Linked DNA regions of Homo sapiens. The protein of the gene in region 1 purifies or fractionates together with the protein of each later gene. This does not show direct contact. Each region holds a gene or a part of one and is shown on either strand. Other genes may lie near its edges.

Evidence for each region.
Region 2: the proteins of RABGAP1L (region 1) and MLF1 purify together in Homo sapiens (affinity purification with mass spectrometry; 2 studies listed by BioGRID and IntAct, with this or other methods). This does not show direct contact.
Region 3: the proteins of RABGAP1L (region 1) and PXDC1 purify together in Homo sapiens (affinity purification with mass spectrometry; 2 studies listed by BioGRID and IntAct, with this or other methods). This does not show direct contact.
Region 4: the proteins of RABGAP1L (region 1) and TRO purify together in Homo sapiens (affinity purification with mass spectrometry; 2 studies listed by BioGRID and IntAct, with this or other methods). This does not show direct contact.

What each region holds. Positions count from the first base shown.
Region 1 is NC_000001.11:174,162,490-174,169,522, forward strand, and holds part of RABGAP1L (rab GTPase-activating protein 1-like), read left to right. Parts: intron 1-7,033. UniProt on the Homo sapiens protein: GTP-hydrolysis activating protein (GAP) for small GTPase RAB22A, converting active RAB22A-GTP to the inactive form RAB22A-GDP. Plays a role in endocytosis and intracellular protein transport.
Region 2 is NC_000003.12:158,602,172-158,606,967, reverse strand, and holds the end of MLF1 (myeloid leukemia factor 1), read right to left. Parts: intron 4,162-4,796; coding exon 4,029-4,161; intron 1,872-4,028; coding exon 1,766-1,871; 3' UTR 1,020-1,765; coding exon of another isoform or gene 998-1,019; 3' UTR 512-997; downstream 1-511. UniProt on the Homo sapiens protein: Involved in lineage commitment of primary hemopoietic progenitors by restricting erythroid formation and enhancing myeloid formation.
Region 3 is NC_000006.12:3,748,691-3,755,589, reverse strand, and holds the start of PXDC1 (PX domain-containing protein 1), read left to right. Parts: upstream 1-3,876; 5' UTR 3,877-4,058; coding exon 4,059-4,314; intron 4,315-6,899.
Region 4 is NC_000023.11:54,916,415-54,923,830, forward strand, and holds the start of TRO (trophinin), read left to right. Parts: upstream 1-4,409; 5' UTR 4,410-4,464; exon of another isoform or gene 4,465-4,551; intron 4,552-4,573; exon of another isoform or gene 4,574-5,054; intron 5,055-5,788; 5' UTR 5,789-5,832; coding exon 5,833-5,877; intron 5,878-6,163; coding exon 6,164-7,354; intron 7,355-7,416. UniProt on the Homo sapiens protein: Could be involved with bystin and tastin in a cell adhesion molecule complex that mediates an initial attachment of the blastocyst to uterine epithelial cells at the time of the embryo implantation. Directly responsible for homophilic cell adhesion.

The DNA.
Region 1 (7,033 bases):
TTCCTATATTGAAGGTGTAGAAGTGGGCCTGCATTCCAACCTACCATTGTCTTCAAGTGGGGTATGGATCATTATGACTGGTTAGAGGGGGTTTGGAGAATGAAGTTGTTGCTGTAAGCCTATGGGATTCCCAGGCACAGAGCTTGCTTATGTCTTAATTTTAATGAGTTCTATATTTTTATAACTCTTGACTTATATAAATGGGTCAGCCGTTGAGTCTGAGGATGACCAGCAGCCCAAGGCTATTCCAGGTGCTGGTATTTCTTTTTTTTTTTTTTTCTCTTTCTGTTTTTTTTTTTTTTTTTTTTTTTTTTAATTATACTTTAAGTTTTAGGGTACATGTGCACATTGTGCAGGTTAGTTACATATGTATACATGTGCCATGCTGGGAATTGAACAATGAGATCACATGGACACAGGAAGGGGAATATCACACTCTGGGGACTGTGGTGGGGAGGGGGGAGGGGGGAGGGATAGCATTGGGAGATATACCTAATGCTAGATGATGAGTTAGTGGGTGCAGCGCACCAGGTGCTGGTATTTCAAAGATGGCTCAGGGGTTTCTTGTGGAGATGATCTGATGAGCATTTTGCCATTACAAACAGTGGAGGCGGAGAAAGTACGGACTTGAGCCTGAGTTATGGTAAAACATACTCATTTTTAAAGGAGAGTTTTAATGCTGATATTATAGAGAAAGACATTGTTTGACTCCTAGACTTTCAGAACGGGAAATAATTTTGACTTTATAGTCAGTATTTGAATTGGGTATAAGTATGTGAACATCAGTGGACCCTAATAAGGAAGAGTTAATGAATTAAGAAGAGCTTGCATCTCTGAACATCTTCTTTTTATACTTCGTTTACTTCCCATATTGCTCTTATTCAACAGATGGGATGGCATAATTGGGTATACGAAGTTTATGCGCATGCTAACTCTTTTTTGTTATCTTTTGGTGTTTTTTGGTGTACTTTTTGGGGATTTTCCTGGGAAAGTTCTAGGCATATATTCAGTTGATTTAGAGTTAGATTTGGGCTAAGATTATTAGTATACTTGAAATTCTGAGCCTTCTTATTTTCTAAATAGCTTTTAAAGTAGAAAACATTTGCCAGTGCTGTTGGGCTTAAAAAAAAAAAAAACCCAACAACAACACAATTCTTTATAAATACTCATGAAAAATCTGGTTACAGGCTGTGTTGTGATAGACATAGTACAGCCAAAAATATATTTAAGAAAATTCTCACCCAGTTTAGTAAGCTTAAATAAGAGGAAAATAAGACAGTTTTTTTTTTTAATAAAAGGCTGATTTTCCCAGAATATGAAGCCTAACAACTGTTTGCTGTGTTATTTTCCCTGTTGCCTGTTCTAAATTCAGCAAGAACTATGCATCCCTAGTCCATGGTAAAAGCTTAGTTCCAGTAGGTGATTCTTAGTAATGGAAGTCTCATTGAGGGATGCAAGGGAATTTGATTGGGAAACATCAGGCATGGAACATTTACTTTTTACTGCTCTAATTTTCTGTGTATCTGGGTATTCAGTGGGGTGGGAACATGAGCACAAATACTAGAATTATCTGGATTTTTTTTTTATACTATGGATTTCCTCCTCTTACCCCCTACCTGCCCCCCAACCCATTGCTAAGTGAGCCATTGATAGTAGGAGTGTGTTATATCCTTCAGGTATGTAGGGCTGAACAAATGCTAAAAACCTTGGCACTTGGCTGATATTCCATAAACCAAATTCCTGCTCTGTGTAATTTGCCTTCTGGTGATATCAGTTTGTTACTCCCATTTTTGAAGAAAAATATGAATTGTGGTGAAGAGACATCTGTAACCAAGAGTAAGATTTATCAAATTATGTAGTATACATGAAGGACACCAGGAGATTGTTTACCTGAACATTTATTAAACTCATTTGACTGTGACCCACAATAAAAAATACATTTTACTACTTGATTCCGCAAGCGCACACACACACAAAGTTGAAAGTTTGGTGAAATAATATTTATCTTTTCAGGGCCCTACTGAGTTAGCTATAATGGCTTGCAAGACCAGTTGTGCATATTTCTTCCTATCTAGCTCTTTGTCCAGTGACATCATGTTGGTAGCTCAAAATTGGTCATGGTGGGAATATTTACACCAGGAAATTCAGCAAATGGTATTCTTAGGGCTTCCCTCCTCATAGGTAGTTGTTAAACATTTATAGCACCCCACTGCTTATAACACACATTGATATATTCTGTTATTTCATTTCATTTTAAAAATGCTGGGTTTTGACTTCCAAATTAATTTTACACCCAGCTAATGGATTATAGCCTACATTTAACAACAAATACAACTAGTTTAGCCTACCCTCTTAACTTTGTAAGTGAAGGAACATACTAAGAGCCTCAAGGCCAAGGTCAGATAGTGAGTTATTAGCAAAGCCAGGGCTCTGGACTCAATCTGGAGTTGTTTCTGGTGGGCTTCTTTCCTAACCTCACTTAGTGTGTATAAGGGATTGTGTTAATCAGTTTGAATAAAGATGGACCTTGACCCTGAGGACTTTATGCTTAGGTGGGGGATTAAATATGGAAACAACAGTGATAATGAAAGGCAGAAAGTAATGGGTGGTAAAAAGATAAAGATAAGGAACTATAAGAGTTTAGAGAGGAGGGAGAGATTACTTTTATTTTTGTTTGTTTGTTTGTTTTTCGTTTTTGACCCAGGCTGGAGTACAGTGGTACAATCTCGGCTCACTGCAACCTCTGCCTCCCAGGTTCAAGTGATTCTCCTGCGTCAGCCTCCCTGAGTAGCTGGGATTACAGGCGCCAACTGCCACACCAGGCTAATTTTTGTATTTTTAGTACAGACGGGGTTTCGCCATGTTGGCCCGGCTGGTTTTGAACTTCTGACCTCAGGTGATCCATCCGCCTCAGCCTCCCAAAGTGCTGGGATTACAGGCGTGAGCCACCGTGCCCGGTCTACTTTTAGTTTTAAGGATAAAAGAAGAGGTGACATTTGAACTACTTTTTTTTTTTTTTTTAATTTGGAGACAGCATCTCACTCCCGTTACTCAAACTGAGTGCTGTGGTGCCATCACAGCTCACTGCATCCTTGATTTCCTGGCCTCTAACAGTTCTTCTGCCTCAGCCCCCAAGTGGCTGGGACTATATAGGCACACACCAACATGCTTGGCTAATTTTTCATTACTTGTAGAGACGGGGTCTCATTATGTTGCCCAGGCTGTTCTTGAACTTCTGGACTGAAACTGTCCTCCTGCCTCGGCCTCCCAAAGTGCTGGGATTACAGTTGTGAGCCACCACGCCCGGCCCCTGAACTATGCTTTGAAGAATGGGTAGGATTTGGACATGTGGAAATAGGACAACTAGTATGAGAGAAAGGCCTTTCTGGGCCAGGGGCCAGGGTGATCAAAGGCATACAAGCATAGACAGGGAAAAATGAGTAGTGAAAGAGCTAGGCAAGAAAGAGTCCGTTAGCACCAGATGGTTAAGAGCCTAGAATGCCAGTTTTCCTTTCTGCTTTTCAGTTTATCTTTCATTTTTGACTCTGGAGTAATCTAGTACTTCTTAACATTGAACAGGATTTATATGTTATGATTAAAATATGATCCAGAGAGCACATAAGTATCCTTAGAGTAGAAGCTGAAGGGAAAAATTATTAGTGTTAGAGAAGCAACCTTGAGTTTACCAATCCTAAAAGTGTTGGAAAGTGAAAAATATTTTATTTGTAAGGAGAGACAGTGTTTTTTTTTTGTTTGTTTTTTGTTTTTCTTCATTAGCGTCAAATTGGCTGTAGTAGAACAGGAAGCAGTTTTGAAAGTCTTTACAAGGGCCTTCTAAAATGTGATTTCTAAATGACTGGATCTTAATTTTTGGAGGCAGGTTTAGTTCAGGCAGAAGGGTAGTTTATACAGATCTGCAGCTAAGCTGAGTAGCTTTTAGAATTTAGGGCAGCAAAGCAGGGTATTTTATACAAAATCCACTTGTAAGGAATTGATGGCTTCTTTATTCCAAGAATTTTCTTAGATTTCAGCATTTATGTCTTTGACAGCCTGTATGACTGAAGATGTTTTGAAGTCTTGGATGGAACTTGCCTTGTTTCACAGGGGAATTGGGTAGCTAGAAATGAAGGTATAAATGCCAGTAAGTTGTGTCTGTTAATCAAGTTGAAGTACTGGTGGCAGTTCTCAAGCTTTTCTGTCTGCTGATGATTTCACACTTACTGCTTCTAATTAAATAGTGTGTAGTCGATTTGAAGAAGCCTTGCTTCTCTTTGACCCACCAGTTCTGTAAAGGTAAAAGCCTTCTTAGAGTGTTGCCCAGGTAACAACACATACAGAGACTGCTTAATAGCTCATCATGGAAGTGTGTGGAAAATTTTGGAAATGTTGGTAAAGAAGTTGCTATAGTAAATAACTACTTGGTTGGTAAAAAGCTGGGCTACTTCTGGATAGTTGATAAAGAGTTTTTGAGATGAGCCGTGGTTCTAAAATAAATATGAATTGTGTCATTGCCACACGATTTTCTTCAGTTATGTAAGCTCCTAATATGTAAATGTTGTCCTACCATTTTAGAAGGTGTCAGCAGTTTCATGTGACCTGTTCCACAATATAGCACACCCCAAACACCACGATAAGAGTTCAAATATGGCATGGCCCAGATGCCTCACACCAGTTAAATGATAAAGCTAATCATGTCAGCACAGTGTTTCTGTTAAAGTTTTTTCCCCCTCTTTTTTGAGGCATGTTAGTTTTCACGAATTGAGGTTATTAGAATCTTTCCAGATTTTCTGCCACCATTTTTTTTGTGTGTGTGGTAAAAAGTATAATGATGGTGCCCTTAATTAAATTATGTAAACATTTGTAAAGATATACACGCATACACATAGTGTGCATATATGTATGTGTAGACATACATACATATATATTTACATATCATTAGTTCTTGGAATTTGTGGTGAAAATACACCCACCTGGCAAATGGTTGAAAACAAGTGTTCTAGCTCTTTGAAGACTACCATGTGAGTATTCACAAATATGAAAGTAATGCAAACCCAAAGGGAGTTTTTGTATGCCCAATTTCAAGAAAGGAGCACATTTTAAAAGGCAAGTATGGAATTCATTCATATACCAGTGAGGAATTTCTCAACTTCTCCTTTACCCCACACATACACCCGTTTACCATTCTCATTATTAGCAGTAAGCAAAATTAGAAGACTTTAAGAATCAGACTTCTACTACAAGTGATGCAAATAAATATTATTTTTAGAAAAAATACAAACCTGTGGTTTTGAGTTATGAAGGTTTAAGAGACACATATCACTAGTTTTTTTTATAAACTACATGGAGTGTTTTCTGTGCTTCAAGATGTCGTAATTGTCATTGTGAGGCCTTTTGCTGAGAGCATTGTATAAAGGAATAGTTGTTAGAATGGTTATTAGGTGTTTCTTTGAATAGTTTATTTTTCTGTAGTCAATTTATCTTGCATACATTGATGGCCGGGGGTGGTGGCCCACACCTGTAATCCCAGCACTTTAGGAGGCCAAGGCAGGCAGATCACTTGAGGCTAGGAGTTTGAGCCTAGCCTGGCCAAGATGGTGAAACCCCACCTCTGCTAAAAATACAAAAATTAGCCGAATGTGGTGGTGTGTGCCTGTAGTCCCAGCTACTTGGGAGGCTGAGGCACAAGAATCCCTTGAACCTGGGAGATGGAGGTTGCAGTGAGCCAAGATCGTGCCACTGCACTCCAGCCTGAGCTACAGAGTGAGACTCGGTCTCAAAAAAAAAAAAAAAAAAAAAAAAAATTGAATAGAGTATACTACTTTAGTGAAAAATTGACCATTGAAAAATCAACCATTGAAGGGAGGTTATATATATATTGGCAGACAGTAGGGTTTCTGAAGTTGTTTTAGAATAATTTTGTTATTGAGCAGCTGTTTTATCACCAGACCTCATTCATTTATTATTGCTTTTTTCCATTTTTTTTTAAATCTCATGAACTGTATTCTTTCATTTTAAATCTCTCATATTTGCCCTGAAGTCAGTGGTCATATTTGGACTAATGTTTTGATTTGCTGTTGTCTGCGCAAAGATCTATTACCAAGTTGCATGATCAAGTTGGTATTGAATGGTAATTCAGTTAATGTCTTCTTCTCTCCATTCCTTTTTTCCTTCTGTATTCTAGAAGTTACCTTAACACTAGTGTGAGATTCCTGGCAAAGTTAATGGGGAAATGAAATTAAATATTACTGTTATTCAAATCCTAGGGTGACCTTTTTGCCAACACTAATGAACATAGAAAATTTTTCAGCATGAATTATGCAGCTTAAATTTTCACTGAGGCTAGGCCTCTTAAGTTTAAAAAATTAAAAGTTAAAAAAATATTTATGGGGTACAAGTGCAGATTTCTTACATGTATAGATTCTTACATGTATAGATGTGGTGAAGTCTGGGCTTTTAGTATACCCATCACCTGAATATCCACCATTCTGTATGTCCATGTGTACCCATTGTTTAGCTGTCACATATAAGTGAGAACATGCGGCATTTGACTTTCTGTTTCTGAGTTATTTTACATATGATAATGTAGGCCTCTTAAGTTAAAAAACATTCTGACATGCATTTTATAGTTCTTGTCAACATTATCAATAGCTTTGATAGATGAAACAGGTTTCTCCTGTTGCAGTTGGTATCACACACAATAAATTAGCCATCCCTACCATTTGAAAATATAAAGGTGTTTTTTTTTTTTGACACGGAGTCTTGCTCTGTCGCCCAGGCTGGAGTGCAGTGGCATGATCTTGGCTCACTGCAGCCTCTGACCTCTGCCTCCCAGGTTCAAGCAATTCTCCTGCCTCAGCCTCCTGAGTAGCTGGGACCACAGGCACGTGCCATCATGTCTGGTTAATTGTTGTATTTTTAGTAGTATTTTCACTATGTTGGCCAGGCTGGTCTCAAACTCCTGAACTCGTGATCTGCCAGCCTTGGCCTCCCAAAGTGCTGGGATTACAGGCGTGAGTGACTGTGCCTGGCCCAG
Region 2 (4,796 bases), on another chromosome or scaffold:
GCCACTGCGCCCGGCATGTATATAGTTTTAAATAGTTTCAATTTACAGACTAACAGTATTAAACACCCATCATAAGAAGTTGTTGCAAACAAATATTATTCTGGGGTATAGATATCGATAGTTATGTTTTTATGGTGCAAAGATAGAGTTGACTTTTAAGAAAGAAACAGAACTTTTCTCGGTACTACCATCTCAAATTCTGCCTCACCACAATCTCTAACTGCAATCTGATGTACAGGAATTATACTGTTAAACACAATTATTTATTAAAGGGTGTTTTTAGATTTGACTACAATGATTCAAGTTATCATCAGTGTAATGATTTAGGCAAAAGGAAAATCAAGTATGTACTTTATTAAGACTTTGCTCTATCAGGTTAATTTATATCAAGATGTTATTTAAAATGTGTGCCTTATGACAATTTCCCAATGTGTTATGGTATGTTAGGAGTATACTAAAGTATGCCTAAAAGGAAATTTTTAACTAATACATGCTCAATTTCAACAATGAATTAACACATTTGCATTTTATTTTAATGACTAAAGGCATAAAACACAAACTAGTAAAATTAACAAAAATATTATATAAAAAATTAGAGAAGTATGAACATAGTCATATAATTTTACTTACAAAATTGAAAAGAAAAATACTTAGGATTATAGAGTGATAGCAATTTTTGGGGGCTTTTTTCCTTGACAGAAATATTAAACAACAAATGTGAGTTAAGATTTTATATTCTTATAAACTTCAAACCTAACTTTTATAAGAACAGACTGATGCTTAAATTCTAGAATTAAAAAGCTAAAGCTGATTTTTAATGGTATAATTAAAACAGAAACAACTGAATTATTAAGACGTTGCTCAAAAACACCCATCAGCTGTCTAACAGATTTTGAGACAATGTATCATTCTGGTTTGGAGAATACCAAATGCATTTTTCTAAATGTCACAAAAAAGCTGAGCAGAGTTTCTCCAAGGACTCTCCAGCTTCAGAATGTTAACCTTGGAGACAGATGAAGCTGTTTGTGGGAAAGGAGAGTAGAAATATGCCACATTAAGAAGTTAAAGAGAATGGTCAATATAATATCTGGTGAATATTAAGAATGTAATATAGAAAAGATACATTCTATAAATAAATTATAACCAAAACAATCATGTACATTAGCAATTTAAAATATTTTTCTCTGAAAATGAACTATTTGATTATCCTTGCCCTTTATCAAAATAGTAACTATTTTCTCATAAAAGAGTACTAGTGTAGTTTTGCTTTATTATTTTTAAAGTTTTAAGCTAGTTGGCTTTACAACACATTATAAAATTAGAGATAAATTATTTAAACCTTTATTAATATCACCCTAGTACAGTGTTAGTAAAAACTGAGACTTTTTTAACATTATAATTTCTTATAACTAATTATAAGTGATAGAACTGCTCTGCAATCAATCTTGATAAATATAAAAGAATATTTAGCCAACACAAAAACAACTGGGGAAGCGAAATAAGCATATAAGCTTTAAAAAATTAGTATGTTTTAAAGAGTTTTACATTAAATAGACTCAATTTACTCACATTGTTGAAAATCAAAATTTTATTCCTAAAAGAGGGACAATATAAAGCTAGGACCTTCATGAACATTCAGATATCAGAAGAAAGTTGCCAAGGACAGAACTGATTTAACAGCAAGAGATTGGTCTTATGCTTATTACCCAGCACCATTACTAACTGTTAAAACAATCAAAACTAAACAAATCAAATGCATGGCTATTTATTTTTTGTTGCTTTTCACAGATGAGCCTTTGATGTGGAGTTTGTCCCCCAAAACATTTGATCTCCTTCCATGTTCAATGGCTGGACTTTGTTGAGGTTTCTCCCTGAGAAATATACATGTGAATATTAATATCATTTAAAAAATGGCCAATGGTTTATAAATCAATACAAACATGTTAAAAACCACTGTAATATAAGAAAAGTTTTATCTTAAAAATTCCTTAATGGCTTTGAAAAACAAGGCTGGCCAGGTGCGGTGGCTCATGCCTGTAATCCCGGCACTTTGGGAGGCTGAGGCAGGCAGATCACAAGTTAAGAGATCGAGACCATCCTGGCCAACATGATGAAACCCCATCTCTACTAAAAATACAAAGATTAGCTGGGCGTGGTGATGCGCGCCTGTAGTCCCAGCTACTCAGGAGGCTGAAGCAGGAGGATTGCCTGAACCTGGGAGGTGGAGGTTGCAGTGAGTTGAGATCGCGCCACTGCACTCCAGCCTGGCGACAGAGCCAGACTCTGTACCCCCTGCCCTAAAACAAAAAATAAAAAACAAAAAAAACCAGAAAATAAGGCAGACTATTTCAGTGAATTTAAGACAGCAACAGCTGTTTTCCTGTTAGATTTAACTGTTTATAGTTTAAACACTGTTTAATGTTAACAGTATGGTAGTCACTAACCACATTTATATTTGAATTAAAATAAAATAATTCAGTTCTTCAGTTGTACCAGCAATGCTTCAAATGTGAATCAACAGCCACATGTGGCTAGTGATTACTACACTGGACAGAATAGATATATAGCATTTTTGTCATTACCGAAGTCATTTCAGAAAATGCCATTGGACAGTGCCGGTTAAGAGAAAATGCCACTGTTAGGGCCAGAAATTTATAGGTCATCCATAAAGAGCATGCCTTCTCTAAGTGCGACCTGGATTTCCTATTCAAACTTGGCACTGCCAGGTTTTTAATCAATACATTTTTCAAATGAGACAAATATCTATAATGAATATGGGAGCAAGTTTTCAAGCAATTCAATAGAAAATACTAGGGCTCTAAATTCCTAAACAAGTATTTTAGAAGAAAAGATCCTAGCATATGAAATTCTGCATAAGGCTTCTGATTTACTTGATACTCACTTGTCCACTGCTAGTTCTGTGAAGGCTTCCACCTTCTGTAGCAATTTTCCACTTTCTTATAGCTTAGAACAGATTTCTATTTAAGGTCTGGTGAGGCCTTTGAGTGTAACTTCATAGGAATTAGATATTATTATCCATTTATTCCTCTGAGAACCACATTAAACTGTAGCTCCAGAGTATGTACAAAATGTATTTAAAAACTCTATAATATTTATTTATTTATTTTTGAGATGGAGTCTTGCTCTGTCACTCAGGCTGTAGTGCAGTGGTGTGATTTTGGCTCACCACAACCTCTGCCTCCCAGGTTCAAGCAATTCTCCTGCCTTAGCCTCCCAAGTAGCTGGGATTACAGGGTGTGTGCTACCACACCTAGCTAATTTTTGTATTTTTAGTAGAGACGGGGTTTCACCATGTTGGCCAGGCTGGTATCGAACTCCTGACCGCAACTGATCCACCTGCCTCGGCCTCCGGAAGTGCTGGGATTACAGGTATGAGCCACCATGTCCAGACAGAAATCTCTATAATCTTTAATATGTGGTTTCAGCAAATTTATTTTTCTCAGCTATTCTAAAAGGGAATTCTAAAAGAAGCTAATGTTCTTGCAAAATTCTTCCAAAATATCTAATACACATCGAATATGGTATTGCATGTACTGTTACATATTATACAAGTGTCTGAAATTTACTATTAAATGCTAAATTTTGATTTGTTAAGAAAGTTGTTAAGTCTTCCAAATAGAGCCCCTCTCCCCTTATCATATCTCTAGATATCTTTACCAGTGTGAAATGTATGACTCTATCTATATCCATATTACAATGTGTTTTACAAGAATAACTACACTACAGGATATCAGTTTTCCTTAAGAGGATTTTGGTCTCTGTCTTCTGAGGCATAGTTTACTAGTGAATTACTAACCATAAAATCCTAAACTATTATTGATTTTTAGATATAAATTTAAATTTGTGTGGAATAATCAGCTTTCATATAAAATTATTACATCTTTCACAAAAGATACTGTGGATACAATTTGGATGATCATCAAAACTTTCTGATAACAGAAGTAAATTACATAACTTTACTTCAAATTCTTCTTAAAAAACCAAACTATTTTAGAAACAACTTTTACCTTCTTTTAAGTTCTCGGGAGCCAGGATTCTCATGGCCAACACTTCTCATTCTAGTGTTTCCTAGATTGTGTCGTCCTGGTTTGTACTTCAAAACCTCACTTTGCCACTCCTCATCAAAAGCATGAGCATCACCTATGTCAAACAGAAAAATAATGGGAATAAGTATTAAGGTATCAACTGTCAGTAACTGCCTTGCTCCCACATATTTCAGTCTAGTCTGGTGTTTTCATTAGTGTAACCTCAATACAGAGGCAGGAAGCTGCTTCAAATATAAGGGTCTTTGACAAAAGTAGTATTTGTTTTCCTGTCTGTTCCTCTCCTATTCCTACTGATGATCTAGTTATTGATGATCTATTTTTTCAACTGCCTGGATAACATATTATTCTACCCAATGGACCAGCTGACCTAATTATATTAACTAACAGTTTTTCTTCCTGGGTCATCTCACAGTGAATATACTCTTCCTGTATAGTGTATACTTCTGTGGCTAGCACTTCTATTCACCTAACCATCTTTCTGTGTAACTTGACCTCACAAGTTTCTGTTGTCAATTTCCTAAGACAGGTTACTCAGCTAGAATGTCAATTCATGTTGTTATGAAGTAATCTAACTTCCATAATAGCAACAATAGAGACATGATAGTACTTCTTAAGACTGCTTTAAAATATTATGTTCCTTCACTCAATTTTTCATCAAAATGTTGATTATTGTGAAATACTCAGTATATATATAAATGTGATAAAATTACAGAGGTTACAAATAAACAC
Region 3 (6,899 bases), on another chromosome or scaffold:
ATCTTTAAAAAAAAGTCAGTCCTAATATTGAAGCTATAATACAGATTTTAAAATTATTGTCATTATACTGTAAACCACAATGAAGAACATCTTATTTATTTATTGAGACAGCGTCTCACTCTGTCACCCAGGCTGGAGTGCAGTGGCGCAACCTCAGCTCATTGCAACCTCTGACTCCTGGGTTCAAGTGATTCTTGTGCCTTAGCCTCCTGAGTAGCTGGGATTACAGGCACCCTCCACCACGCTCAGCTCATTGTTTTGTATTTTTAGTAGAGACAGGGTTTCACCATGTTGGCCAGGCTGATTTTGAACTCCTGACCTCAGGTGATTCTCCCTCCTTGGCCTCCCAAAGTGTTGGGATTACAGGTGTGAGCCACCGCGCCAAGCCAGAACATCTTATTTAAATGAAAAGGGATTAATATTTCACCAGGCAATAAATGTAGCAGTTTCTTTTCTCTCCATATCTACAACCAATGGTGATATTTTATAAGCTAATTCTAAAGAGAAGCATTTTTTTTTAAATGATAAAAGCCACGTTTTGCTCAGAACTACTACTGTTCACATACCACATAAGTTGTTTTACAGCAAATACCAGTTTGCCAGGCTCCAGATGGCAAAATGCTAAGTTGTGAGTTCAGTATTGTCCAGCTAGTTGTTTTTCTGAGATCCGGCAGCATGTACTGTTGAGAGAGGACACTGTGTTGCCGCCACTTCTCATAGCTGTCTACTATGGTAGACCATTCATGTCTTTAAAATGCAAGTCTTAGCAAAAAGCCTCCCACAAATTCAGTGGATATCACAATGTTCTGTTTGATAAAGTCAGTTGCTTCTTCAACTGTATTGTTGATTTCAGGTGCTGCTTTATTTGCTCATTTCTTAGTCTGTCTTTTTTTTTTTTTTTCTTTTTTGAGATGCAGTCTTGCTCTGTCATCAGGCTGGATTGCAGTGGCGTGATCTCGGCTCATTGCAACTTCTGCCTCCTGGGTTCAAGCGATTCGCCTGCCTCAGCCTCCCAAGTAGCTGGGATTACAGGCGCCCACCACCACGCCCAGCTAATTTTTGTAGTTTCAGTAGAGATGGAGTTTCACCATGCTGGCCAGGATGGTCTCGATCTCCTGACTTGGTGATCCACACGCCTCGGCCTCCCAAAGTGCTGGGATTACAGACATGAGCCACCACGCCCGGGCCTTAGTATGTCTTTTTGCTTTATGTACGTCTCTTTCAATTCTCTTCCAGTCAATCTGGAAGTCACTGCAGTTGCTGCAACCTTCCCAACTTTTGGGAGCAAAAATCCTGCATACCAGCCTGTCACGCCACACATTCCAATCTGGGTAGCTACTGAGTATTTCTCTGTAACACCATAGGTCTCCAACTGGGGCCAAACACTCAATTCCACCGCTGATGTCTTCTTGCATACTCAGTTAAATCCAACACTTCATAAGAGTCGTCATCACTTTCATATTCTTGGGGGCTGGGGTTAGAGGTCACCATGATACCACAGGTGGCCTGTTTTGGGGTGGTCCTGCCTGCCCTCCTCTTCCTGGCACTTTCAGAAAATAAGTAACAGAAAAATACTGAGAAGAAAATAATAATCTTATTAAGCAAATGGGCTTGTCACCGGTGGAGGATGTCCAGGTTCTTGGCATCTTGAACAAAGAATTGGACAAAACGCACAAACAAAGCAAGGAAGGAATGAAGGGATTTATTGAAAACGAAATTACATTCCACAGTGTGGGAGCGGCCCGAACATAGGGGCTCAAAGGCCCCGTTACAGAATTTTTGGAAGTTTAAATATCCCCTAGATGATTCCATTGTTTACTTCACTTACCCTCTACGTAAATGCAGAGGATGAAGTAAAGTTACAAAGTCACTTACAGCATACGCCCTATGGAGTGGATATTTCCTGTTACAGCCGAAGTGTGAATTGGCCTTATGTTCCCTGCCTCCTGACCCTATTTTCCTGCCTCAGGCTCACTGCTCAATGTACACGGAAGCAATACCATGGTACTGCCTTTGAGAAAAGAAAGACTTTATTGCAAGACCAGCCAGCAAGGAGACAGGAGGCAGGTTCAAATCTTCCTCCCTGATTTGGGGTCTGGGGCAAGTTCTAAGGAAGCAGAGGGCAAAGGAAAGGACTTAGAAATGTTGGCTGGGCAGGATCTGTTTGAAGGCCTTCAAATTTGGCCATTTATGGTACGGTATGTTGAGGTGGATTTTAGCCCCTATCTTCTGGGCCAAGAGACCCTTCCCTTCTGAGAGTTCGAATGTTCGGGTTCCAGTCATGTCCCAGTCTTCTTCGTTCCAAGGAGACGAATAGTTGGTTCTGGATGTTTGTTAGAGATCAAATCTTTTTCTATGGTGCATGCCTGGGCTTTGTGACTTAAGAGTTTTTGGCTCTGTTATACCTGCAAGGTAACTCAACATTGTTACAAACAGAGTAAGCCCCGTTTGGGCTGGTACTGTGGTTACAACGGCACTTATTCCCACCACCTAGAGTCAAGAGCTGCTGGCACACTGGCTGTTTACTTCCAGTTCCCACGGCCCCTATTCCCCTATACAAAATTACACAGGAAACATATGCGTTCATTTAATTAGCAAGTGTATATAAAAACATCATAGACAAAGCAAAAGTCTCTCTTGACACTCTCCATCTTGACCTGTTCACCGCCCCAGACCAGGTGAGGAAATTTGAAGCTATGCTATCTGCAAGTCACTGGCGCAGTCGGAATAAAAGTTGGTCGTGGTGGGGGCGGGGGGGGGGTGGTCATCTGGGTCGGGACTGAGTCGAGGCAGGTGGGACTGAGTGGTAGGGACCTGGGGGGACATCTGGGTCGGGTCTGAGTCCAGACAGGCCACCTGCCTTGGGCCTCTAACATTTCCGCGCAGCGCTGGGCTTTGAGGCTTTCCAGAGCGCTGCCGGGGCGGGGGCGGGGTGAGGTGAGGGGCTCACCCTGGCTCTCCCACCCCTGCCTACGGGCTGTGAGGTCACTCGATTCATTTCTGGAACTAACTTGTAATTCTCAAACAAGTGCTATTAATTCTCTTCCAACTAGGAACGGCCTCAGTAACGCGCCGCTGAGTCAGTTTTCAGGGCGGGCGGTTTCCCCAAGTCCACTCCTGAGGCCCCTCAAGAGCACCCACCGCGTCCAGCTTCCCAGGGCGCTCCTTCCCAGGAGACCTTCTTTTCGCCACTGTTTTCTCCCCTCTTCCCACTTCTCCGAGGGCTGCCCCGCGGTCTGTCCGGCCGTGTCCCAGGCCTTGGCGCGGCTGAGGCATGACCGGAATGCGCGGGAGGACGCGGGGCACGGAGGGGACCTGAGGCACGGAGGGAACCCGGGGCGGGCCGGACTGGCCTGGGCCCTCGTCGGGGCGGTGCTCGACCCGGCCCGCGCCCCCCGCCCCGACACTCGCAGCCCCGCCTCCGGACCCCGGGTAGTTGCCATCCCCTCGCGGGCCGGGTGGGGCGCGCAGCTCCTAGCCCTGGGAGGTCCCGAGGATCGCGAAACGGAAAGAGAAAAAAGTCTGCGCCGAGCGCCTGGCAAGCAGGGCCCGCCCCGCCTCCCTTCCCGGCTGGTCCAGTCACCGACCTGCGGCTCCGGGGCCGCGAGGGAGGAGGCGCGGGGGGCGCGAGGCGGGGGCGAGCGCTTGGGACTCGGCCCGGCTCCCGGCTCCGGGGGTTCTCGTGGCCGCGGCAGCGCGGTCTCTGCGGAGGCGGCGGGGGCGCGGCCAGCCGGACCTCTTCCTTTCCAGAGCGGCCCGCGGCGCCCGTTCCGCGGGAGGCGGGCGGGAGGCGGACGCGGCCTAACCTCGACGTCGACTACCGCGCCGCCCGCGATGGGAAGCGCCTTATAAAGCCGCGCCCGGCCGGCCCGAGCCACTCGCCGCCGCGCCGCCCCGCTGCCCCGAACGCGGGCCATACGCAGCCTCCTTGGAGTGACGGGCCGACCCCGGACGACCCCGGCCACGGACAGACCCGGGACGACCCCGGCCGGGGCGCGCCTCCTGCGGGCGGGCGGGCGGCGGGGCTGGGGAGCCCTTGGCGGGGGCATGCGTGCGACATGGCCTCGGCGGTGTTTGAGGGCACGTCGCTCGTGAACATGTTCGTGCGCGGCTGCTGGGTGAACGGCATCCGCAGGCTCATCGTCAGCCGGCGCGGCGACGAAGAGGAGTTCTTCGAGATCCGCACGGAGTGGTCGGACCGCAGCGTGCTCTACCTGCACCGCAGCCTGGCGGACCTGGGCCGCCTGTGGCAGCGCCTGCGCGACGCCTTTCCCGAGGACCGGTCCGAACTGGCGCAGGGGCCGCTGCGGCAAGGTGCGGGGCCGGGGACGCGGGAGGGGCGCGGGGCCGAGGCAGCCTTGAAGTGCACGAAGGAGGCGGGGAAGAGACTTCAACCGAGATTGCGACTTCTCCTTTCTGCCCGCCCTGGACAGGGGACACTTGGACCCCGCGCCCGCAGACGAGGGGTGCCCGGGCGGCGGGGTTAGGGGGACGGGGAGCCAGCCTGCCCAGCCTGGGGGCGCCCCCGGCGGAGGAGCCAAATGGGGCGGGAAAGGGGCCGAGGCCGGCAGGGCGGGCGCCGGACTCTCCCTGAGGACGAGTCACTTCCGAGGAGGGCGGGGGCGCCCGGGGCTGAGCGGCTCACAGGGTCGGCCCGGCCCTAGCCCCCTGCCCGGTACCTCCCGAGGGCCGGCGGGCGGGCGCACTGGGAAAGCGTCTGGGAGCAGTTAACTGCAGGGTCCGAGCCGGGGGTCGCGTCGGGTCTGGCCGCCGCCCCGAGTTCTCCCCGCGGAGGGCGCGCCCCTGGTCTTCGAGCGCGAGGTGCCACGCAGCCCTTCCGTCCCTCCTCGGAGCGGCCGCCCCGCCCGCGGCTGCCGCGGACAGCCAGGGCCCCCCCGCACCCCCGCCAGGGCTGGTCCCCATTCGCGTTTGATCAGCTGCGCCGCCTCCTCCCCGGCCTCGTGACCGTCCTGGCTCGCGGGAATTCTTGTTTTCAGAAACCGCGGTGGCTTCCCTTTTCCTACCGCTCTGCCCGATCTTTCTTTTGGAGGCCAGGCTGAGGGGGTGGAAGCCGGGAGGACGCAAGAGAGAGGGACTGGAATTGAGACGGGAAGAATTGCGGGGTGGAGGGGGCAGGCCGAGGAGAGGGGCCGCCTGGGAGGGCCGGGAGGGGAGAAGGGGCGGGAAGACTGGAGGACTTCCGAGCAGGTCCCACCCCCCTCCATGGGTGACCACCTGTAGCTCGGAACATTGGGACAGTGGCCCAGCAGCCTTCTTTTCTGCAGTCCTCCTCTAAGCAGAGACCTCCTGAAAGCTTGGGGCCAAGTTACTGAAGCAGAAGGTGGCCCGTCCAAGTCTCCCCAGCCTCCTATCTGGCTGCGTTCTTGAGATAACCTGTGCTTTCCCCTGGCGATGGCCCCAACCCCAGTGTGAGAATTACGTGGATAATTAGCTTAGTTCTCATGACACATCTTTTGGAAGGGCTCCCACAGCCAGCGAGTTGGGGCCCTGAGCGAGAAGGCCCGCCTTTCAGGCCTCCCTCTGCTCCCCAGAGCCTCACATTTATAGCTGTTCTCCAGACAGTTGGGTGTTATTTCAAGCATGGAAGCAGTTTTCCTTGGATTTGCTGTTTGTTATGATATTTTAAATTTAACAAATCAATGCCCAAATCAGGAAAGCATCGTGAAGGAACAGCGGTTTATTCAATGACCTTTCCTGGAACGAGGCTTAAATACACTGGAGTCCCTGAGCTTCACTGTGGTCAGGCGTCTGAGCTCCGTGACCCCAGGCAGGCTGGTTGGAGCGGGATCCCCGTGGGGCTCCCCACCTGTAACTTTGTGCTTGTGGTCTCTGACGTTTGTGAGGACTGAAAGGCATGGTAGAGGGTCTAACAAGAGCAGGTTCTCCATAAATGCCAGTTGTCATTGTTACCGTCCCATCAGCTGCTTCTGGCTGGGGTTGGGCCAGACGGTGGAAAGAGGGCGTGGTTTCAGTTGCATCCACGCTGGTGGAAATACCTCACCTGGAGCAGGAGGGAGGGGCGTGCCCTGCACACACCCTGGCTCCGCCTCTTTTGCTGTCGCCCTAGTTGTGCTGGGTCTGTTACGCGGTCACAAGCTGTGTGGACACGCAGGAGTGGCTCAAAAGAGTGAAGAAAGGTTGAAGACGCGAGCGATTACCGTGGAGAAAAGGCTCAGAAGGGATATGATAGCTACCTCCAAGTACCTCAAGGGGAACAGAAATCAGAAATAGGGGTCAGAATGATGGTGGCAGGGCTGGTGGGCGGTGAGTGTGAGGTCCAGCGGCTGGGTGTAAAGGACTTTCTCACAGCACACCGTGGAACTGTTGGAGCTGCTCTCTCTGCTGGGGACAGTCTGGCACACCCTGGAGGGGGTGAAGAGGGGAGCCTGGGACCAGAACCGGGACCATAAGCCCTGCCTTCATTCTAGTCCTTGGTTTTCTGAGGGGCAGTTAGTTGGTCCCTGCCCAGCACCACCTGAGTTTTGTTGTGCAGCGCCAGGGAAGTCCTTTCCCTTTCTTTGATCCTTTTAAGTCCAGGGAAATTGTTTGCCAAGTAAAATATATCCCAGTAATGTAAAAGCAGATTGCACCTTATTTCCATGCAGATTTATTGTTTGCATAAAAAGATTATCTGGATATACAAACTATAAACACAAAAGGCAGCCAGATGTGTGTGCTTTGCTGTGCTGCAATGCCGGCTTTTCTCTGCATCATTCCCTATCACATTCCCCAGTTTACATGGATTGAACTGTTTCTGGGACGGGTTAGATTTGCATTCTCTAGTTCCATTTAAGAGATTTGTGAGGAAATCTGGATTTCTGAGCTTCTGCTGGCAGTGGGCTGGTGACTCTTGGAAGTGTCTGCACACCCTTGGAGGG
Region 4 (7,416 bases), on another chromosome or scaffold:
ATTTAGTGATTTGCATGTGTTGAACCATCCTTGCATCCTTGGGATAAATCACACTTGATCATGATGAACGATCTTTTTAATATGGTGTTGAATTTGGTTTGCTAGTATTTTGCTGAGGAGTTTGCATCTATGTTCCTCAGGGATACTGGTCTGTAATTTTCTTTTCTTCTAGTGTCTTTGTCTGGTTTTGGTGTCAGGGTAATTCTGGTTCTGTAAAATGACTTTGGAAGTGTTTCTTTCTCTTCAATGTATTGGTAGAATTTGAAAAGGATTGATATTCATTCCTCTTTAAATGTTTGGTAAAATTCAGCAGTGGATCCACCAGGTCTGGAGATTTTCTTTGATGAGAGACTTTTATCACTGATTTAGTCTCCTTTCCCATTACATATCTGTTTAGATTTTCTATTTCTTCAAGCTTAAGTCTTGGTAGGTTTTATGTGTCTAGGAATGTATCCATTTCTTCTAGGTTATCCAATTTCCTGGCATATAATTGTTCTTAGTATTCTCTTAAAATCTTTTGCTTTTCTGTGGTATTAATTGTAATGTCTCCTCTTTCATTTCTGATTTTGAGTCTTCTCTTGTTTTTTCTTAGTTGATCTAGCTAAGGGCTTGTCAATCTTATTTATCTTTTCATAAAACCAACTCTTGGTTTCACTGATTTTTTTCCTATTGTTTCTCTAATCTCTACTTCATTTACTTCTGCTCTGATCTTTATTATTTCCTTTTTTCTACTAATTTTGAGCTTATTTGTTCTTTTTTTTCCAGTTCCTTGAAGTGTGATGTTAGATTGTTTGGGATCTTTTTTCTTTTTGATGTATGTATTTATTGCTATAAACTTCGTTCTTAGAAGTGCTTTTGCTGCATTCTATAAGTTTTAGTATGTTGTATATACATTTTCGCTTGTCTCAAGATATTTTAAATTTTCCCTTTAATTTCTTCCTTGACGTATTGGTTATTCTGGAATATGTTTTTTGATTTCCATATATTTATGAATGTTCCACAATTCTTATCATTAATGATTTCTAGTTCCATACCACTGTGCATATATTACTTGATGTGATTTCAATATTCTTAAATTTGTTAAGACTTGTTTTTGTCTGTCACTTTGAAAAAATTCAACAACCTTCATGCTAAAAACTCTCAATAAATTAGGTATTGATGGGATGTATCAAAATAATAAGAGCTATCTATGACAAACCCACAGCCAATATCATACTGAATGGGCAAAAACTGGAAGCATTCCCTTTGAAAACTGGCACAAGACAGGGATGCCCTCTCTCACCACTCCTATTCAACATAGTGTTGGAAGTTCTGGCCAGGGCAATTAGGCAGGAGAAGGAAATAAAGGGTATTCAATTAGGAAAAGAGGAAGTCAAATTGTCCCTGTTTGCAGATGACATGACTGTATATCTAGAAAACCCCATTGTCTCAGCTCAAAATCTCCTTAAGCTGATAAGCAACTTCAGCAAAGTCTCAGGATACAAAATCAATGTACAAAAATCACAAGCATTCTTATACACCAATAACAGACAAACAGAGAGCCAAATCATGAGTGAACTCCTATTCACAATTGCTTCAAAGAGAATAAAATACCTAGGAATCCAACTTACAAGGGATGTGAAGGACCTCTTCAAGGAGAACTACAAACCACTGCTCAATGAAATAAAAGAGGATACAAAGAAATGGAAGAACATTCCATGCTCATGGCTAGGAAGAATCAATATCGTGAAAATGGCCATACTGCCCAAGGTAATTTATAGATTCAATGTCATCCCCATCAAGCTACCAATGACTTTCTTCACAGAATTGGAAAAACTACTTTAAAGTTCATATGGAACCAAAAAAGAGCCCGCATCACCAAGTCAATCCTAAGCCAAAAGAACAAAGCTGGGGGCATCTCGCTACCTGACTTCAAACTATACTACAAGGCTAGAGTAACCAAAACAGCATGGTACTAGTACCAAAACAGAGATACAGATCAATGGAACAGAACAGAGCCCTCAGAAATAATGCCGCATATCTACAACTATCTGATCTTTGACAAACCTGAGAAAAACAAGCAATGGGGAAAGGATTCCCTATTTAATAAACGGTGCTGGGAAAACTGGCTAGCCATATGTAGAAAGCTGAAACTGGATCCCTTCCTTACACCTTATACAAAAATTAATTCAAGATGGATGAAAGACTTAAACGTTAGACCTAAAACCATAAAAACCCTAGAAGAAAACCTAGGCATTACCATTCAGGACATAGGCATGGGCAAGGACTTCATGTCTAAAACACCAAAAGCAATGGCAACAAAAGCCAAAATTGACAAGTGGGATCTAATTTAACTCAAGAGCTTCTGCACAGCAAAAGAAACTACCATCAGAGTGAACAGGCAACTTACAGACTGGGAGAAAATTTTTGCAACCTACTCATCAGACAAAGGGCTAACATCCAGAATCTACAATGAACTCAAACAAATTGACAAGAAAAAAACAAACAACCCCATCAAAAAGTAGGTGAAGGACATGAATAGACACTTCTCAAAAGAAGACATTTATGCAGCCAAAAAACACATGAAAAAATGCTCACCATCACTGGCCGTCAGAGAAAGGCAAATCAAAACCACAATGAGATACCATCTCACACCAGTTAGAGTGGCAATCATTAAAAAGTCAGGAAACAACAGGTGCTGGAGAGGATGTGGAGAAATAGGAACACTTTTACACTGTTGGTGGGACTGGAAACTAGTTCAACCATTGTGGAAGTCAGTGTGGTGATTCCTCAGGGATCTAGAACTAGAAATACCATTTGACCCAGGCATCCTATTACTGGGTATACACCCAAAGGACTATAAATCATGCTGCTATAAAGACACACGCACACATATGTTTATTGCGGCATTATTCACAATAGCAGAGACTTGGAACCAACCCGAATGTCCAACAACGATAGACTGGATTAAGAAAATGTGGCACATATACACCATGGAATACTATGCAGCCATAAAAATGATGAGTTCATGTCCTTTGTAGGGTCATGGATGAAATTGGAAATCATCATTCTCAGTAAACTACTGCAAGGACAAAAAACCAAACACCGCATATTCTCACTCATAGGTGGGAATTGAACAATGAGAACACATGGACACAGGAAGGGGAACATCACACTCTGGGGACTGTTGTGGGGTGGGGGGAGGGGGGAGGGATAGCATTAGGAGATATACCTAATGCTAAATGACGAGTTAATGGGTGCAGCACCCCAGCATGGCACATGTATACATATGTAACTAACCTGCACATTGTGCACATGTACCCTAAAACTTAAAGTAGAATAATAATAAAATAAAATAAAAAAGACTTGTTTTTGGCCTAACTTATGATCTATCCTGGAGAATTTTCTATGTGTGCTTGAGAATATTATATATTCTATTGGATAAAATATTCCGTAGGTCCTTTTTGTCTAAAGTGTATTTCAAGTTCAATGTTTCCCTATCGATTTTCTGTCTGGATGATCTGTGAATTGTTGAAGATGGGGTCTTGAAGTCTCCTACCATTATTGTATTGCAGTCTACTTCTCCCTTCAGATCTATTAATATTTGTTTTATATATTTAGGTGCTTCTATGTTGGGTGCATATATTAAATATGTTTATAATTATTCGATATTCACGATGAATTTATCTCATTATCATTATATAATGACCTTTAAGATCTTTTATGGTTTTTGACTTTAAGTCTATTTTATTTGACATATGTGTAGTTATCCTTGCTCTCTTTTGAATGATTGATGGAATAGATAAATGTCATGAATTGTTTTCTGCATGGGGGCACAGTGCACCATGTCACAAGAGACAGTCTAAGTACAAACTGATATTGTTAAAACATCAATATAGTCATTGTGGGATCAATAAAAACTTTTCATAGATTTTTATACATTACTGTTTTTATTCTGAATTGCATAAGATGGACGGGCACCCTATCTTTTAGTGTTTAGAACCTCTAAATGTTTTAATGTGGTAACACTTGAAAAACAGAAATGAATATGACCTAGTCCCCTGCTCCAGAGCAGCTCTAGGGAAGAGAGACATAGACACAAGGTATAACAACACTATGTAAATAGTGTTGGGATAGAGGGTCTGTAGGAAGGGTTGGTGTGGGAGTTCAGAGAACTACATTCCTCCTAGGGGAAACAGGAGAATCAAATAGGAACGGAGATACAGAGTGGGGAATAGAGAAGTCAAATGGAGAATAAGAGGGAGTGATAACTGAATAGGGGTAGTAAGAAGAAAAAGGGAGCTACATTGAGGAGAATGGAAAGTTGAAAGTAGGTATGGAGGGGAGGAGACTGACAGGCAGGAACGGAGACCCCCCTCTGGAGGCGGAAAGAGGCAGGACCACTTCCGGCCAGGGAGGGGGATAGGCTCAGACACAAGGAGAGGCTTGGAGAGAGCAGACGCCTTCTGGATTCAAGAAGACGAGGTGAGCTGAGGTACCTGGCTTTAGTGAAGACCCTGTGGGGGCTTCCTGGCTGCGGCTTCGACGTGCCTGACTCCACACGCCCCTAAGGTTTGAAGAAAACCTGCTGGAGGTTTGGGACCTAACCGCATCAAAGTCGCCTTTAGCGGTGCCTGGACCCAGTTCGCACGGGAGGAAGTAGGAGGCAGAATCCCCTTTGGGCCACAGAAAGTAACGATCTGGACTCGGTTCGGGCCGTGAAAGGGAGGGATGCAGACCTAGTTGGGACCGCAGAAAGGAAGGATCGAGAAATCCTTCAGACGGTAGCAAGAGGGGAGGAGGATACACACAGTTCGGGAGGGAGATAGGAGACGGCAGGACTCCGTTTAGGCTGGAGAAAGGGGGCAGTACCCCGTTTGGGCCACAGAATGGAGGGATCGGGACCCAGAGATAAGAGTGGGCAGCATCCCTTTTGAGCAACGGAAAGGACCAGACTCAGACAGGAGAAAGGAGGGGATATGACCCGGTTGGTTCCGGTTTGAAAGGGAAGAGACAGGACCTGGTAGGGTTTGAGAACAGGAATACACAGAAGGTTCATACAGTTGGATTTGGGGGTGAGGTATTCATGTTGCAGAAAGGGCGGAGCTGCACACTTGCAGACGTGGAAAGAGGGGGGAGTGGTGTTGGTTGGGGAAGGGGTGGTGCAGAGACGTACCGCAGAGCGGAGGGAGGGGGCTTATTAAAGGAAGGGAAGATGAAGAGAAATGCTGCAGAGCGGAGGGAGGGGGGTGTATTGGGAAGGGGCGGTGCGTGGCAGTACCGCAGAGGAGAGATGGGCGGTGTTGGGGTAGGGGCGGTGCGGAGTGGTACTGCAGAGCGGAGGGAGGGGGCTAGTGTTGGGGGAAGGGTTGGATCGAGATGTGATGCAGTTAGAAAGAGTGGGTCGGGGTGGCGCCAAGATGTTCTGTTGCTCTGAGAGCAGGGGGCAGATGTGGGATTGAGCTGGTTAGAAACTGTCCGGTTTACCAAGGCGCATGCGCGCGGAGGGCATTGAAGAATGGTTCTTTTGGGATAGAGGTGGGCCTAAGATGGGGGGTGGGGGCGCCTCTAGTCGGTGCGCATGCGCACTATCGAGTTGCGGAGGGGGCGTGTAAAGGGGTGGGGTCGTAGAACTGACTCTCTCGGAGGCAAAAGGAGCTGGGCCTTGGAAACCAGATGGCCTGGGTTTTTTAGGTATGAAAACCCAGGAGTTGAAGGGATTAGGGCCCAAGGTTACATGAGACTCCCCTAAGTCAGGATAGGTGAGATGTCTGATGAATCTCCCCCTCCCTCTCATTCTCTAACTCAGGCCCATTCCCCTCAGGCTCACCTGTTACTCGGCCTCCCAGAAAGATGGATAGGAGAAATGACTACGGATATAGGGTGCCTCTATTTCAGGTGAGGCCTCTCTGCATTCTCTCTAGGCCATCTGCCCCATCCTGAGTTCACTTACTGCTCTTCAGACCCCTTCCACCGTGTAGTTTCATAATTCCCTGCCTAACTCGTCTCAGTCCTCCCTTACATGGTGAAGGAGAGGAGAGGAAAACCTGCCTGACTCTATTCCTTCCTTGCTCCCTACCCCATTTTAATTAACCACTGCTCAGAGGAAGGGAAGGCCTTTGTGGAAAGGGATGGGCTTTAGCGAGGCCAAATGGCCCAGAGGATGGTAATCCTAAGTGTGTAGGGCCCTCTGCCTCCCCCGGGGAGCCTGGGGCTTCCCTTCCCTCCAGATATACAGACTGAGACCACAGAAGAGGACAGTGTCCTGCTGATGCATACCCTGTTGGCGGCAACCAAGGACTCCCTGGCCATGGACCCACCAGTTGTCAACCGGCCTAAGAAAAGCAAGACCAAGAAGGCCCCTATAAAGACTATTACTAAGGCTGCACCTGCTGCCCCTCCAGTCCCAGCTGCCAATGAGATTGCCACCAACAAGCCCAAAATAACTTGGCAGGCTTTAAACCTGCCAGTCATTACCCAGATCAGCCAGGCTTTACCTACCACTGAGGTAACCAATACTCAGGCTTCTTCAGTCACTGCTCAGCCTAAGAAAGCCAACAAGATGAAGAGAGTTACTGCCAAGGCAGCCCAAGGCTCCCAATCCCCAACTGGCCATGAGGGTGGCACTATACAGCTGAAGTCACCCTTGCAGGTCCTAAAGCTACCAGTCATCTCACAGAATATTCACGCTCCAATTGCCAATGAGTCAGCCAGTTCCCAAGCCTTGATAACCTCTATCAAGCCTAAGAAAGCTTCCAAGGCTAAGAAGGCTGCAAATAAGGCCATAGCTAGTGCCACCGAGGTCTCGCTGGCTGCAACTGCCACCCATACAGCTACCACCCAAGGCCAAATTACCAATGAGACAGCCAGTATCCACACCACAGCAGCCTCCATCCGAACCAAGAAAGCCTCCAAAGCCAGGAAGACAATTGCTAAGGTCATAAATACTGACACTGAGCATATAGAGGCTCTAAATGTCACTGACGCAGCTACCAGGCAGATTGAGGCCTCAGTAGTGGCTATCAGGCCCAAAAAATCCAAGGGCAAGAAGGCTGCCAGCAGGGGCCCAAATTCTGTCTCTGAGATCTCTGAGGCCCCACTTGCCACTCAGATAGTCACAAACCAAGCCCTGGCAGCCACCCTGCGGGTCAAGAGAGGGTCTAGGGCTCGGAAGGCTGCCACTAAGGCTCGGGCAACTGAAAGCCAGACTCCAAATGCTGACCAAGGGGCCCAGGCCAAGATAGCCTCTGCTCAGACCAACGTAAGTGCCCTTGAGACTCAGGTTGCTGCTGCTGTCCAGGCCCTGGCAGATGACTATCTGGCTCAGTTGAGCCTGGAGCCCACAACCAGGACCCGGGGCAAAAGAAACCGAAAGGTGAGATCTCTGACATTGCCATCCTTAACTTTGTGCTTCTTTTCCATTTCTACCCTTCTAGT